2 linked regions of the Homo sapiens genome follow. The protein of the gene in region 2 interacts with the protein of the main gene of each other region in a pairwise test. Each region holds a gene or a part of one and is shown on either strand. Other genes may lie near its edges.

What was found.
Region 1: the proteins of RPIA (region 2) and PCMT1 interact in binary tests that used the Homo sapiens proteins (3 or more experiments, as listed by UniProt).

Annotation. Positions count from the first base shown.
Region 1 is NC_000006.12:149,808,490-149,812,207, reverse strand, and holds the end of PCMT1 (protein-L-isoaspartate(D-aspartate) O-methyltransferase), read right to left. Parts: intron 1,593-3,718; coding exon of another isoform or gene 1,580-1,592; 3' UTR 789-1,579; downstream 1-788. UniProt on the Homo sapiens protein: Initiates the repair of damaged proteins by catalyzing methyl esterification of L-isoaspartyl and D-aspartyl residues produced by spontaneous isomerization and racemization of L-aspartyl and L-asparaginyl residues in aging peptides and proteins.
Region 2 is NC_000002.12:88,729,673-88,736,672, forward strand, and holds part of RPIA (ribose-5-phosphate isomerase), read left to right. Parts: intron 1-4,879; coding exon 4,880-4,944; intron 4,945-5,530; coding exon of another isoform or gene 5,531-5,546; exon of another isoform or gene 5,547-5,627; intron 5,628-5,996; coding exon 5,997-6,065; intron 6,066-6,862; coding exon 6,863-7,000. UniProt on the Homo sapiens protein: Catalyzes the reversible conversion of ribose-5-phosphate to ribulose 5-phosphate and participates in the first step of the non-oxidative branch of the pentose phosphate pathway.

The sequences.
Region 1 (3,718 bases), on a different chromosome or scaffold from region 2:
GTGTGCCACCATGCCCAGCTAATTTTTGTATTTTTAGTAGAGAGGGGTAGAGAGGGGATTTCATCATGTTGGCCAGGCTGGTCTTGAACTCCTGACCTCAGGTGATCTGCCCATCTCAGCCTCCCAAAGTGCTGGGATTACAGGCGTGAGCCACCGCACCCAGCCTAAAAGCCATTTGTAAAGAAGTAATATTTAAGACTTTTTTCAAGAGCTGGGGGGAGTGTTCACATGCCCACGAAGGTTCTTTGCCAGAATTACGCACCCACACATGCACCCAGTAGAAGGGCTTTGCTGGGAGTGCTGATTCTGCTCATTCTGGAGCTTATATTTCCTCAGTTCCAGAACTACTTCTTATAAAAGTTATAAATCACAACATTTAAATAAGATCCCAAAGTGCTACTGCCTTCTTAGAAATTCAGCTATAGTCATTATATTAATAAATCTTTGTATAGGTGAGAGATGGGTTTTGGTCTGTTCACCCTCAATCCTGTTCTTTCCTGACTTTAAGTCGATTCATTCACCACTCACTCACTCACCAGCATTTACTGTATAGCTACTACAGGGCAAGCCCTGGGCTAGGGAGTCAAAGAGAAATGACGACTGAAGTACGGTCCTGGCCCTGGAGCAGTGTAGTCACATTCTACAATGTACAGTTGGATTAATGCTAATTACTTACTCAGACTTCGCAAAAGGAAACAACCAGAGAAACAGTCTTTTTCCCATGATCGTAAACACTCCCTATCTGGTGGACTTGCTGTTCTTCCTTCTATATTCAAAAACAACCAATGCCTCTTTTACTTTTAACTTTATTTGGCAAAGCAGCACTGCATAAACTGTTCAAGAACTAGGACACAGCTTACACAGCATGTTAAGTTCATATACATTATCAGCAGCAAATTAGAAACAGAAAACCACACTAAACTACAAGTCTCCTATAATTTTGAGAGAGAGAGAAGGGAAGAACTAAGTCAGTTATGTCCAATCTGAACAGCTGAGTGTTTACAGGACATCACCTGCCATCTTATGGTTTAATATTTACAAATGCCTAGTTTTAAGGTAACAAAGCAGCTGATTGTATCTACAACATGCTATTCTATGACACCACATCAAAAGCTTTAAAAAGAAAGCTCATCTCTATTTTCTTAGTAGCATCTAACAGATATCCAAATACCAAGAATCTTAACTTGTGAATGGTGGTGTTATCCAATGCACAAAAGCAATCTGATAAATTAATATCAGAACAGAATTAAGTGTCCAAGAAAAGAAAAACCACTCCTCAAAATCAATTCACAAACTAAGTTTTCCATTTTACAGAACCCTTTCTTTTAATATTTCCAAGTAAAATATGGGCATGTTAAAGTAATATTACACAAATTTATACTTTGCATCCTTCCTCTACCAATTTGGCTCTGTGCCTCTTTGAAGAATCAGAAACCCTAAAAAAACACACATTTTCATGCTGAAAATAACAGTGTAACAAAGTCCAAAACAAGCTGTGATGGTGTTGGTTTTCAAAAAGCTTTGAGGACTGAGATGAGCAATCCACTGTAATTTTATACTGGTCAAGCTGATGTTGCTTTTACAATTCATCCCTGTGAGGAAAAAAGAGAGAAATACATTAGTAGGAGTTACACACTACCCAATTTGGCTTTATAATAGTTTAGACACAACTATTAAGTCAATAAAAATGCGCTGATCACCAAGCAATATATTTAAAAAATAAAAATGCAAACAACCCAAGTGAAAGCAACAGAGGGTCAGCCATTCCAAACATCTTCCATGCCACTCCAGAACCAAGTATGCAACCTAAAGGGCGTGAGTTCTTCATTTTTGATTTCTAAAAATAGATTTCTTCCTTCAATGTCAAAATTCAGAAAAAATATCTTTTAGATCTACGGTCATCTTTACACTATAGTAAAATGACAACTTAAGTGTTTTAGAGTTCAAATGAGTTGATAGTTACATTCACAAAATTGGACAGAAATGTGGTCTTTTGCTCAGAATGTCCACTAGCAATTGTGGAGTGGGTCAATCTCAACCCAAGCGCTCTGAGAGAAAAGGCATCATCTGTAGGTATAATATACCTGTCAGCTGATTTCATAAGGCAGCTTTATCAGCTCCAAAAGAAACCATTCACTCAGCCAGGTGCAGCACTGTACCAGCAACTGCCAGTGAGAGGAAGGAAGGAATAAAAATGCAGTCTAAAATAAACTGTATGGTATCTCAGTTATACCTCAGTAAAACTGTTAAAAGTGAAAAAATGAATAAAACCACGAGAGAAGCCCACAAGCCTCATAGCTGAAGGTAATGTGAGTGACAAAAACAAGAACTTTAGGGGTAAAGAAGCATGATATTGATAATTAAGTCTCAAGTGGTTTAAGAAAAAGGAAAAAAATTACATATATGTATATATAGAAAGAGGGGAAAGAAATGTAGAAAAATGATAATAATTGATGACTCTGGATGAAGAGATTTAGGAGTTATTTGTACTATCCTAGCAACTTGTTGGCAATAAAAATTAAAGTTAAAAGTTTTGAAAAAGTTGTTAAGATAAATTTGAAGGGAAGAAGAAATAAAGAGCTCATAATTTCACAAGTAAGTGGGGGTAAATTACTGGACAATTTTTTTAAACTAAATTTTGTAAATTGTGCAAGAAAATATTTTTAAAATCATTTCTCCAATAAGCTGCCTTTATCCTATAGTATTGGATTATCTATTAAATGACAAATCATAAGTCTGCTTCCTCTTAATATATTCTTCCAAATAACAATGTTATAATTCTCATAGAACAGCTTTTACTTAACTCATGCAGGCATTAAAATATTTGGTCAACAAAGAATTATTTGCAAAGTGCTCTATTCATAAAGTAAAATTCACTTCTGCTTTTTAGAATATGAACTGAAGATATTGTTTTTCTTGTTTTGGCTTTTTTTTTTTTTTTTTTTTTTTGAGACAGAGTCTCGCTCTGTCACCTAGGCTGGAGTGCAGTGGTGTGATCATGGCTCACTGCAACCTCTGCCTCCCAGGTTCCAGCAATTCTCCTGCCTCAGCCTCCCGAGTCGCTGGGATTACAGGCAGGCACCACCATACCCGGCTAAATTTTTTTTGTATTATTAGTAGAGACAGGGTTTCACCACGTTGCTCAGGCTGGTCTCGAACTCCTGACCTCAAGTGATCTGCCCACCTCAGCCTCCCAAAGTGCTGGGATTACAGGTGTGAGCCACCATGCCCAAGCCAAAGATATTGTTATTTTTAAATAATTTACTACAATTTGCCAGGGGCAGTGGCTCACACCTGTAATCCCAGCACTTTGGGAGGCCAAGGCGGGCGGATCATGAGGTCAGGAGATCGAGACCATCCTGGCTAACATGGTGAAACCTCGTCTCTACTAAAAATACAAATAATTAGCCGGGTGTGGTGGCATGCACCTGTAATCCTAGCTATTCGGGAGGCTGAGGCAGGAGAATCGCTTAAACCAGGGAGGCGGAGGTTGCAGCAAGCTGAGATCACGCCACTGCACTCCAGCCTGAGCGACAGAGCGAGACTCCATCTCAGAAAACAATAATAATAATAATAATTTACTACAATTTACCTGCTGCAAGACATTAAGTATACTGTAAATAAATTAATGCCCCCTCAACAACATAGGTACCATTTTTCCAACTATCCTCTCTGTCTAAAAAATACTTTAAAAAAGGAAAAGAAATTAGGTTTATAG
Region 2 (7,000 bases):
AAATAAGGAAGAATCATCTGAGGCAGCCATGGACATTTGAAAATATTAAAACTAAGCAGAACTGAAGGAAATAGAGACACAAAAAACCCTTCAAAAAATCAATGAATCCAGGAGCTGGTTTTTTGAAAGGATCAACAAAATTGATAGACCGCTAGCAAGACTAATAAAGAAAAAAAGAGAGAAGAATCAAATAGACACAATAAAAAATGATAAAGGGGATATCACCACCGATCCCACAGAAATACAAACTACCATCAGAGAATACTACAAACACCTCTACGCAAATAAACTAGAAAATCTAGAAGAAATGGATACATTCCTCGACACATACACTCTCCCAAGACTAAACCAGGAAGAAGTTGAATCTCTGAATAGACCAATAACAGGCTCTGAAATTGTGGCAATAATCAATAGTTTACCAACCAAAAAGAGTCCAGGACCAGATGGATTCACAGCCGAATTCTACCAGAGGTACATGGAGGAACTGGTACCATTCCTTCTGAAACTATTCCAATCAATAGAAAAAGAGGGAATCCTCCCTAACTCATTTTATGAGGCCAGCATCATTCTGATACCAAAGCCGGGCAGAGACACAACCAAAAAAGAGAATTTTAGACCAATATCCTTGATGAACATTGATGCAAAAATCCTCAATAAAATACTGGCAAACCGAATCCAGTTGCACATCAAAAAGCTTATCCACCATGATCAAGTGGGCTTCATCCCTGGGATGCAAGGCTGGTTCAATATACGCAAATCAATAAATGTAATCCAGCATATAAACAGAGCCAAAGACAAAAACCACATGATTATCTCAATAGATGCAGAAAAAGCCTTTGACAAAATTCAACAACCCTTCATGCTAAAAACTCTCAATAAATTAGGTATTGATGGGACGTATTTCAAAATAATAAGAGCTATCTATGACAAACCCACAGCCAATATCATACTGAATGGGCAAAAACTGGAAGCATTCCCTTTGAAAACCGGCACAAGACAGGGATGCCCTCTCTCACCGCTCCTATTCAACATAGTGTTGGAAGTTCTGGCCAGGGCAATCAGGCAGGAGAAGGAAATAAAGGGTATTCAATTAGGAAAAGAGGAAGTCAAATTGTCCCTGTTTGCAGACGACATGATTGTATATCTAGAAAACCCCATCGTCTCAGCCCAAAATCTCCTTAAGCTGATAAGCAACTTCAGCAAAGTCTCAGGATACAAAATCAATGTACAAAAATCACAAGCATTCTTATACACCAACAACAGACAAACAGAGAGCCAAATCATGGGTGAACTCCCATTCGTAATTGCTTCAAAGAGAATAAAATACCTAGGAATCCAACTTACAAGGGATGTGAAGGACCTCTTCAAGGAGAACTACAAACCACTGCTCAAGGAAATAAAAGAGGACACAAACAAATGGAAGAACATTCCATGCTCATGGGTAGGAAGAATCAATATCGTGAAAATGGCCATACTGCCCAAGGTAATTTACAGATTCAATGCCATCCCCATCAAGCTACCAATGACTTTCTTCACAGAATTGGAAAAAACTACTTTAAAGTTCATATGGAACCAAAAAAGAGCCCGCATTGCCAAGTCAATCCTAAGCCAAAAGAACAAAGCTGGAGGCATCACACTACCTGACTTCAAACTATACTACAAGGCTACAGTAACCAAAACAGCATGGTACTGGTACCAAAACAGAGATATAGATCAATGGAACAGAACAGAGCCCTCAGAAATAATGCCGCATATCTACAACTATCTGATCTTTGACAAACCTGAGAAAAACAAGCAATGGGGAAAGGATTCCCTATTTAATAAATGGTGCTGGGAAAACTGGCTAGCCATATGTAGAAAGCTGAAACTGGATCCCTTCCTTACACCTTATACAAAAATCAATTCAAGATGGATTAAAGATTTAAACGTTAAACCTAAAACCATAAAAACCCTAGAAGAAAACCTAGGCATTACCATTCAGGACATAGGCGTGGGCAAGGACTTCATGTCCAAAACACCAAAAGCAATGGCAACAAAAGACAAAATTGACAAATGGGATCTAATTAAACTAAAGAGCTTCTGCACAGCAAAAGAAACTACCATCAGAGTGAACAGGCAACCTACAACATGGGAGAAAATTTTCGCAACCTACTCATCTGACAAAGGGCTAATATCCAGAATCTACAATGAACTCAAACAAATTTACAAGAAAAAAACAAACAACCCCATCAAAAAGTGGGTGAAGGACATGAACAGACACTTCTCAAAAGAAGACATTTATGCAGCCAAAAAACACATGAAGAAATGCTCATCATCACTGGCCATCAGAGAAATGCAAATCAAAACCACTATGAGATATCATCTCACACCAGTTAGAATGGCAATCATTAAAAAGTCAGGAAACAACAGGTGCTGGAGAGGATGCGGAGAAATAGGAACACTTTTACACTGTTGGTGGGACTGTAAACTAGTTCAACCATTGTGGAAGTCAGTGTGGCGATTCCTCAGGGATCTAGAACTAGAAATACCATTTGACCCAGCCATCCCATTACTGGGTATATACCCAAATGAGTATAAATCATGCTGCTATAAAGACACATGCACACGTATGTTTATTGCGGCACTATTCACAATAGCAAAGACTTGGAACCAACCCAAATGTCCAACAATGATAGACTGGATTAAGAAAATGTGGCACATATACACCATGGAATACTATGCAGCCATAAAAAATGATGAGTTCATATCCTTTGTAGGGACATGGATGAAATTGGAAACCATCATTCTCAGTAAACTATCGCAAGAACAAAAAACCAAACACCGCATATTCTCACTCATAGGTGGGAATTGAACAATGAGATCACATGGACACAGGAAGGGGAATATCACACTCTGGGGACTGTGGTGGGGTCGGGGGAGGGGGGAGGGATAGCATTGGGAGATATACCTAATGCTAGATGACACATTAGTGGGTGCAGCGCACCAGCATGGCACATGTATACATATGTAACTAACCTGCACAATGTGCACATGTACCCTAAAACTTAGAGTATAATAAAAAAAAAAAAAAAAAAAAAAAAAAAAAAAAAAAAAGAAAATATTAAAACTAAGTTTTGTGGTAAAGACTAACACAGGGGCAGTCCAGAGGAGACTGATGTTGGTGAGGGTGAGCAACATCACAAACCCTACCTGGCATTTTCTGAGCCATTATTATGTACCAGCTTTTGTGCTAAGTGCTGTACCTGTATTAAACTGTTTTATTTCCAGTATTCTTGAAGATAGGATACCACAATTTTCCCATTTTATAGATGTGAAAAAGGCACAGAGAGGGTAAGTCATATGGCTAATGCCACAGGTTTTAAGTGGCAGAATCAGAATTTGAACTCAGGCACATCTTTTCTAGACTAATGCTAGTTTGAGTTTTTTGGGAAGAGGTAAAGTTTGAATTGGGCTATAAAGGCCAGGTGGCAGGGGCAGGAGAGAACATTCCAGAGAGTGGTAGACGGGAACCACAGGAACAGCTCCATGTGGGCAAATGGACACTGCTCGGACTGGCTGGGGTGATAGGACAGAGTGAGTGTACTGCGTTGGTGCATAGTGGGGAGAGGGAAAGCAAAGCTGGATAGGAAAAGTGGGGTGGTTTTATGGCACCTGGAAAACCAGGCAGGTTGAGACTTGATGGTGATCTGGTAGCCCATGTTTCTGTCATACACATGGGCCTCACAGGGGTTAGTAAGAACTATGGGAAGGACTTGGGGATTTCTGTGGGCAGAGCCAGGGGCACAGGCTGATCATGTGTTCAGCAGCTGTGAAGAGAGTGGTTTGGGCTGAAGGTGGGCCTGGAGCCCAGACAGAAAAGGTTGCCACTTTCCATACCCCTGAGAATTGCCAGAGTGCAGCCTGGCTCTGGGGTTAATGCAGGCCTGGGGAGAGCAGTGCCTGCTGTAACTTCAGACAAAGGCTGGAATCTGTAAAAGGCTGGAAGCAAGCATGACCCATATGAAACTGTATTTTTTATACCTGTGCCATGCCAGCCATGCCAAGCAACTTAGTAACTGCACCATGAATAGAATTTGTACCCTGCATACTACTTGCTGTCTTTAAAAATATACTCGGGGTTCCTACAATGTCCATGCAGAGTACCATGAGTGATGAGAAATGTGTAACTTTCTTGATTTTGATTTTTAAAAGCTAGATGAACCCATTTGCCCCTCAACTGCTTTTGGGGCTTGTGGTGGAGCTTCCTAATAGAGGGAGCGGGCAAGCCCAGACAAGTGGGGTCTTAGTGGCAATGCCCCAGTAATTTCCAGTTCGGGAACTCATCAGCTTTCTTGTGTATCTCTTCATTTGATCCTCATGTCCACTTAAAATTGCCTGTGAGGTTGCTCACAGTTAGTACAGAGACTTCTGAATCAGTTTTTTTTTTTTGCATTTTTCCCACCCCCAGTGGAATTTAGTAGCACAGATATTACTGTATTGGCCCTTTGGTGGGACAAAACTCATTGTAATGTCTAAGATTTTTTATTCCCCCACCAAAAACTAATTTTTGCCTCTTGGGGGAGGTGATAGCACCCACACTGAGAACACGTGCTCTAAATAACGCCAGCTTGTCCACAGAGAAGCCCATCAATGAGAAAAGGGAACATAGTCTTGTGGGTAAGAACTGCATCCCGGTTAGAGTCCCAAGTCCTGTGCTGTTTCCCTTTGATCCTAGTGGAGCAGCTTAACCTCTTGTAGCTCAATTTCTTGATTTGCTAAATGGGAGTACTAGAATTAGCTAACAGGGCTGCTGAGTATCTGATGAGCTATCGCATGCTCAGGCAATTAGCAGAGGCTCCCCTCGAGTGGTTTTTGTATCTTTACCTTTCCCCCAATACAGATCGACCTTGCCATCGATGGTGCTGATGAAGTAGATGCTGATCTCAATCTCATCAAGGGTGGCGGGTGAGTGTTGTGGGGGCTTCTGTGCTAAAGAGTATCTGCCAGTTAATCCTTAGCAAAGCAAGATGGATACAGAATAAACAAATTGCCACTGTGACATATGCAAGTTTGTCTTTCTCCTAGGATATTGATAGCATATGGCCTTAGACCCAACTCAGCATTTCTGGTCATTAGCAGCAATTTACTGACAAGGAACCTGGGCCTCTTTAGTGAGATCATTCATCGTAATGGATTCTCTGTGGATTTGTGTTCTTTTGTTGATTCAGACTTTAAAAACTTAAGGCCAAATCAAAATAATACTGGGCTAGATTGTTAGGTCTGTGGGCACCAGTGTGTGACTTTTGCTTTAAAGCTGTGCTTACTTCTGTGAGCAGTTAGGGATATTATTTGTTCCTTTGGAAAACATTAATTGGGTATTTCTTAAGTGCTGATTTGGGGAGTGGTGGGAATGGTGAGTTGAAAAAGGTGAAATCCTGTTCTGCTGGTTCTTATAATCAAGCAGACTATTGAGTGATGCAGCATTTGTTTAAAATCACACTTTACTGTTTATTAGATTTTCTTACGTGTTACTTAATCCTGTCAACTGCAGATGTGAGATAGTTTAGCTGCTAAACCCTAGAGGTAGACCTGGACCCAAATCTGCTGATTCAGTGCTCTGGGCTCTCTCCACTTCATCACCCTCATTGGCAAGTAGTCGACTGGGCGGGTTGTTCAAAGCGTGCCCTCCTCAGCTTCTAGACCCTCCCATTCATGCCATGTCCAGATGACATCTCCCTGAACACAATGCTCCCTCTCAGACACATTTGGATGGAATTATGCCTGGCCTGAATGGGAACCTTGTCTGCTTTCTAGGTTTCTCCCAGACAGGGGTAATGTTTCTAGAGTCCATTTACTAGGAGCAGCATGATGGGACTGGGGATGTCCCTTTAAAAATTAAAAGTTAAGTTTCTCTTTAAGTGCCAGGATTGAGTGGATTTGGGATTCCTGTATTTAACCTTAGTTCCCAAACTGAGATTTTTGTCTTACTCCTGTGTTCCTTTGCTTCTTTCCTGCAGAGGCTGCCTGACCCAGGAGAAGATTGTGGCTGGCTATGCTAGTCGCTTCATCGTGATCGCTGATTTCAGGTACAGTTTCTGGTGTCTGAGCTGCCAACTGAGGAGGTAGATTGGATCCCCAAGCCGCATCCCCATTTTTGTGAAAGAGGAAATGGAGAGCTGCAGGGACTGTCTGACTTTCTGAGACTGATGGCTAGGACTTAGTACAGTGTCTAGGAGACCTTATGTTCTGCTTGTAGGCTGAAGGTAGATGTTGCTAATCACAGCACTGTTATCCGCAGCCAGGATCTCTAGCATCGTTTCATGTGTTCAGTGGAACGGGGAAACAGCTTGTCACCCTGTTAGCAGAGCATGCTCTCATGTGTCATGTCACTCACTGGATCCTCACAGGGAGCCTCAGAGGAGGCAGGGTGTGCCCTGCCCACGGGCAGTGACTCAGCATACCCTGCTTCTTCTCGGGTCAGGGTTTGCCGCAGGTGACTGGTGTCATTGATAGTCTTTGACCAGGCTCTCAGATGCTCCTTCAAGGAATGTAGTCAAAAGCACTTGTGCTGAGCATGTTAATTTCAAATATGTGTATGTGTATATTTACTTGTGAAATATAGCCACAGGACGAGCATAAATATTAAACACCTACATACCCACAAGCCAGCAATATCAGATTTTAACATTTTTGTCATATTTATTTCAAATAGCTCTTTTCCTATATAGTGAAACAGCTAATTCATTTGTAGCCCCATGTATATTGCCCTTGATCACTTTCCTTGCCTTCCCACCATCTCATTAACCCTGTTCCTGAATTTGGTGTTTGCCTGTACTGTTGAGCTTATTTACTTTTATTGTACTTTCTGACTCCTTCTTTCCAGGAAAGATTCGAAGAATCTCGGGGATCAGTGGCACAAGGGAATCCCCATCGAGGTCATCCCAATGGCCTATGTCCCAGTGAGCCGAGCTGTGAGCCAGAAGTTTGGGGGCGTGGTTGAACTTCGAATGGCTGTCAACAA